Regions from separate parts of the Homo sapiens genome. Here region 2 is linked to region 1. Evidence: fine-mapped QTL for protein levels in blood plasma. Region 1 holds a variant in brackets. A gene starts in the other region. All regions are shown on their reverse strands.

Region 1 (2,852 bases):
GATTAGGGAGAGGAATGTGGACAGAGAAGCAGAGCAACGGAGACCGGGAAGTTTCCGTCTGTGTCCTGGATTGCAGCCAACTGCTTAGGCACACACACCTGCTGCCCTCCCGGCTCTGAGTCACCTCCTCTCCTCTCCCTGTCCAACGAGCAGCTGCCAAATGGCAGCCAAATCCAACAGATGTAAGCCGGGACCCCACCTGTGTTTGAATTACTTTCTTTGAAATCTGCCACGTCCAGGTTTATTGACCCGGGCAGTCTTTTCAACATTTCCTTATGCCGCATACGGGTGGGGCTAGGGACTTTCTTGTGCACTGGCAGTCCTCAGAAGAGAAAACTTTGAATTCAGCTATTTGGAACCTCGTTACTGGTTCCGAGCCTCAGGAAAGGCCAGAAGAGCGAGAGCCAGCCTAGTTAGTCACTCCCACATCTGTGACCCCCGTTTACGGGCCTTGTACGCTACTGCCCTTCAGGTACCATAAACCGGGCTTCTCAAAGGGCACTGCAACAGGTTTCCAGGAATTATTTATCAAAGTCCATGACCCCGGCCCTGTGACCCCTGGGTTTGAAAATTCAGACCTTCAGCCTAACGGAGAGGTCGGCTCAGCGTTCCTCCCAGCATCCTCGGGCGATATTAGGGTCCTGGGAGATTCGGGAGGCCACTGCGTCCAGGCCCCCCACGGCCAGCCAGGCGAGAGGCGGGACGCGAAGCCGCGGCCTCCTTCCTCTTCCCTGAGGCGGTGGCGGCGGCAGGCCCCGCCCCTCCCGCGCGGTGGCCGTCGGCGGAGGGGCGGGGCCTGCTACAGCGTCGCCGGCTGACGCGAATGACGCTGCGCCAGTCAGGCCGCAGCCCCGCTGCTTGGCCCGTCGGGCCCGCCTTGGCCGGCTCGGCCCGCCCCCGGCCCTCCCTGCACGGCCTCCCGTGCGCCCCTGTCAGACTGTGGCGGCCGGTCGCGCGGTGCGCTCTCCCTCCCTGCCCGCAGCCTGGAGAGGCGCTTCGTGCTGCACACCCCCGCGTTCCTGCCGGCACCGCGCCTGCCCTCTGCCGCGCTCCGCCCTGCCGCCGACCGCACGCCCGCCGCGGGACATGGCACACGCACCGGCACGCTGCCCCAGCGCCCGGGGCTCCGGGGACGGCGAGATGGGCAAGCCCAGGAACGTGGCGCTCATCACCGGTATCACAGGCCAGGTGAGTGCGGGGGCGGGGGCGCGCCGGCCGAGGCAGCCTGGGCACGCGTGCTCTCCCTACGCGCCGCTACTCGTGGGCTGCGGTCTCTCCAGGAACAGCCCTCTCGGCGTCCCGGAAGGGGTCTGCTGCCGGGAGGTGGGACGGAAGGTACGGTGCAGTTAGTGTGTTGCGTGTGGGGTGTGCGGGATACATCGAGCGCCTCTGGTCTT[T/C]CTCTGGGGGCTGTGAGCGTGTGTGCCGCGCGGGATGTCGCGCTCACACCCGGGCAGGACCGCCCGCTCTCACCTGCCCCTCAGGTGACCGCAGCGTCTCTTCCTCCAAGCCCATGTCGTGCTTCGCAGCTCCTAGTGCCGGAAAGGGAAAAGAACCGGTGATCAATGAACTTGCGGGTGAGGTCTTCTTGATGTGTCTCGGCTCAAGGGGCGCTTACCTGCTAACGTTTGGGAAGCAAGAAAAAGGGTGCTTTGCTGGTTTCGTCCCCTATCACCGGATTTCCAGATAGAAAAGAGAACATGAAAGAAAGTAATGCTGTGGAGTCACCTACTAGGACATGTTTAGGAAAAAGAACTTAAAAAACTTTTTAAAATCACGCCAACTTCTGAGATTCAGGTTGACACATTTGGAAGTGTATCCGAGGCACACTGGTCCAAAAGTGCGGCTAGTTCCATTTTCAAAGGAATAAGTTCGTCGAGTAAGGTAATCAAGAGGAGGTCTTCGGAATGTCTCAGGCTAAGCATGGCTGGTTTGTGAGGGTCGCCTCTTAGAGGTGTTGCAGTAGGTGGGATCCGACCGCTGTGTCTTACCAAGCTGTGCTGTTTTAGATTCAGTGGTCATGAAGTAATCGTGCCCACATATTGCTGTAGAAAGAATGTGATGTGTGTGCTCCTGGGTATCTCTGGGTGGTGGCCAATATAACACTGAGATAAAGGTGATAATGGCTAATACATATTGTGTCTATCATGTTCCAGTCGCTTGCCTAACATTAACTCATTTAGTTCTCATAACAAACTCTTTGAGGAGGTACTTTTATTATCTCTATATATGTGGAAACTGAGGCATGGGAGTTTGATTTGCCTGAGGTTAAACCGCTGGGAAGTGTCCAGTTGGTATTGAAACCACTCTCAAAGTTCTCTAGTGTTAGAAAGGGCTAAGTGGGCAGGAGGCAGCGGCTCATACTTGAAATCTCAGCACTTCGGTGTGCAGAGGTGGAAGGATTGCTCGAGGTGAGGCCAGGAGTTTGAGACCAGCCTGGGCAACATATTGAGACGTTGTCTCTACAAAAAAATTTAAAAAATGAGGCAGGCATGTTGGTGCTCACCTGTAGTGCTAGCTACTCAGGAGGCTGAGGCAGGAGGATCACTTGAGTCCGGGAGTCTGAGGCTGCTGCAGTGAGCAATGATGGTACCACTGTACTCCAGCCTGGGGCAAGAGAGTGAGATCCTGCCTCAAAAAAAAAAAAAAAAAAAAAAAAAAAAAAAAAGAAGGAGAAGTTGAAATTGGCCAGATGCACAGTCACAGAATATTACACAATTTCAAGTATTGAATACCTGATTTACTGCTGGTTATTCATGCATCTTGCTTTGCTTAAGGTAATCATAATAGACAAGAGTTTGAAAACTAGTAAGAGGTGGATCTGAGTTTGAAAACTAGTAAGAGGGCAAGGATCT
Region 2 (2,904 bases), not on the chromosome of region 1:
TGTCTGACCGCTTTTCTTTTTTTTCTTTTTCTTTCTTTTTTTTTTTTTTTTTTTTGAGATGGAGTCTTGCTCTGCCGCCCAGGCTGGAGTGCGGTGGCACAATCTCGGCTCACTGCAAGCTCCGCCTCCCACGTTCAAGGGATTCTCCTGCCTCAGCCTCCCGAGCAGCTGGGATTACAGGCATGCACCACCACACTCAGCTAATTTTTGTATTTTTAGTAGAGATGGGGTTTCACCATATTGACCAGGCTGGTCTTGAACTCCTGGCGTCAAGTGACTTGCCCGCCTCGGCCTCCCAAAGTGTTGGGATTACAGGCGTGAGCCACCGCGCCTGGCCCTGACTGCTTTTCTCTTGGTTTGTTTCTCAATCCCCCTTCCTCTGAGCCGAATTCCCTTTTTGTTCTCATTTTCTCTCTCTGTCCCCTCTCTCTCTCCTTCTTTCTCTCCTTCCATTCCTCCTAGATGAAGCAAAAACTCAGATAAACCAGCACAGAGGCCAGGTATGGTGGCTCACACCTGTAATCCCGGCACTTTGGGAAGCCAAGGCAGGCAGGTTGCTTGAGGCCAGGAGTTCAAGACCAGCCTGGCCCACATGGTGAAACCCCGTCTCTACTAAAAATACAAAAATTAGCCGGACATGGTGGCACGTGCCTGTAATCCCAGGTACTCAAGAGGTGGAGGTTGCAGTGAGCGGAGATCACAGCCCTGCACTCCAGCCTGGGTGACAGAGCGAGACTCCATCTCAAAACGAAAAACAAAAAACAGCACAAAGTTCCCTTGTCCTGTGACTCATTCTCTCTCTCTCTTTCTACCATTTCTCCTTCCCTGTGTCTTTTTTTTTTCTCTCTGTGGGTTTTATTTAAGCAATAGAAGTTCTTAGCAAAGAAAAACTTTATGGAATTAGATTGATCCACTTCATATGTACATATATGAACTCAGTTCAGAAACTCTCTTCTACCCCTGCCTGATCACCTATTTGGAAGTCTGTTCCTTCAACTCTTCTTCTCTTTCTGGGACTCTTTCTAGCTTGGGCTTCCTGCCCCTCCCGTCCACTCTCCTGCTTTCACAGCCTCTCCTTCCCCCTGCCCCTCCCCTGCACTGCATGGGGATGGGCCCCAGGTGTCCAAGGTCTCCCCACCCTCCTTTGTCACTGGAGTCAGGATTAGAACCCAGCTCCCTAGTCACCTTGAGTCATCAGTCCTGGGGCTGCTGACGGGCTTGCAGAGGAGAGAGGGAGTGGGGCTGGGTCTTCCCACCCTGGGTCCTTTCCTCCTTCCCCACTCCGTTTAGCTGTAAAGCTCAATTAAGTGTGATTAGCTGAGAAGAGTTTCTGCAGAATTAGAGCACGCCCCACCCCTGTCTTCGTGGTCCCCTTCCCTTAACCCGGAAACTGGATGGGCCAGGACAAAGAGAGTTAAGAGCTTTGTCAGTGGTCTGTCTGGAGCGACAGATGGAAGGAAAGGGACCGGTTGAGCAACATGACAGGTGGCTGAGGAGCCAGGTGCAGAGTGGTAGAGTTGGCTGGCGGAGTGGCCAGCACATGAGAAGACAGGCAGGTAGGTGGACGGAGAGATAGCAGCGACGAGGACAGGCCAAACAGTGACAGCCACGTAGAGGATCTGGCAGACAAAGAGACAAGGTGAGAAGGAGGTAGGCGACTGCCAATGAGGGAGTGACACACAGGGGAGCAGGTAGAGAGAGGACAAGCAGGTCATCCCCTTGGTGACCTTCAAAGAGAAGCAGAGAGGGCAGAGGTGGGGGGCACAGGGAAAGGGTGACCTCTGAGATTCCCCTTTTCCCCCAGACTTTGGAAGTGACCCACCATGGGGCTCAGCATCTTTTTGCTCCTGTGTGTTCTTGGTGAGTTCTCCCGGAGCAGGGAGAGGGCAGGACTGCGACTGGATCCCTTCACCCCCATGAGGAGGCCCCACCACCCTCCCCATCTCAGCTCTGGCCCCCAGCCTGGTGGTGAGGAGGAGAGGGGCTTTCTCTGTGCCTCCATTTACCTGCAGCTCTCAGGGTACTGCTCACCTCGGTCTCCCCTATTTTTTGATCCCTCTTCCCTTCTGTCCCTCTCTGAATCTCTGTCTCTCCATTTCCCTCCTATGTGTAAGCATCTTTCTCCCTGGGTGTCTTTGATGTTTCATGGTCTTTTTCTATCACTGGGTCTCTCTCTCTTTCTCTCTCTTTCTCGTCTCTCTTTCTCCTCTCTCTCTCCTGCCTGTTTCTCTCTCTCACTCTGTGTGTCTCTCCATCTCTGTATCTTTTCTTCCTCTCTCTGACCCATGCCCCTGTCTGTCTCCAGGGCTCAGCCAGGCAGCCACACCGAAGATTTTCAATGGCACTGAGTGTGGGCGTAACTCACAGCCGTGGCAGGTGGGGCTGTTTGAGGGCACCAGCCTGCGCTGCGGGGGTGTCCTTATTGACCACAGGTGGGTCCTCACAGCGGCTCACTGCAGCGGCAGGTAAGTCCCTTCCTGGGGTGGGCGAAGGGAGGACTATGGGAAGGCAAGCGCTGGGGGTAGGATCACAAGGGAGGGTGGTGCCCACTGGGAAGAAGCTGATCCTGCAACAAGAGAGTCTGAGGTTAGACCAGGAGTGGAACTTCCTTAGCAGTGGGCCTGGGGTGGTGCTGGGCAGGGTGAGGTATGTTGGGTGGAGGGCCGGGGAGGGTCCTGGAACCTGCCCTCCTGCCTCTCCCATTCCTGCATGTACCCTTTCTTTCCTATATGACATCTGCCACTCACCCCAGCCATTCCTTGACCCAGTCTGGGCCCGGGGCCCAGGTCTCACCCAAGCTCTTTTTCTTTTTCTTTTTTTTATTTTTTTGAGACAGGGTCTCGCTCTGTCGCCCAGGCTGCTGTGCAATGGCGTGATCACAGCTCACTGCTGTCTCTGCCTCCC

Which allele goes with the higher level. Positions count from the first base shown, and alleles are read on the strand shown. Strength reflects both the effect of a copy and how common the allele is.
For the plasma level of the protein whose gene starts at base 1,443 in region 2, T is the high allele of the variant in region 1 and C is the other (moderate association).

The links. PIP is the posterior inclusion probability: the model's chance that the variant is causal. Protein levels are from antibody-based Olink assays in UK Biobank. Linkage for the fine-mapping came from a reference panel and not from the study's own genotypes, which makes the PIPs less certain.
Region 2: KLK12 starts here. The variant in region 1 is fine-mapped to the plasma level of the KLK12 protein (UK Biobank, PIP above 0.99).

The regions. Positions count from the first base shown.
Region 1 is chr6:2,243,657-2,246,508 of GRCh38, reverse strand. GMDS (GDP-mannose 4,6-dehydratase) reads left to right here and starts at 904. Exons shown (of 11, transcript NM_001500.4): 1 at 904-1,188. The coding sequence starts at 1,087. It overlaps GMDS-DT (GMDS divergent transcript), which reads right to left and starts at 756. Exons shown (of 7, transcript NR_046229.1): 1 at 579-756. RefSeq lists a silencer at 632-1,261 and an enhancer at 762-1,262. The variant T/C (reference allele first, on the strand shown) is at 1,398.
Region 2 is chr19:51,033,541-51,036,444 of GRCh38, reverse strand. It overlaps KLK12 (kallikrein related peptidase 12), which reads left to right and starts at 1,443. Exons shown (of 6, transcript NM_001370125.1): 1 at 1,443-1,639; 2 at 1,805-1,860; 3 at 2,306-2,465. The coding sequence starts at 1,824.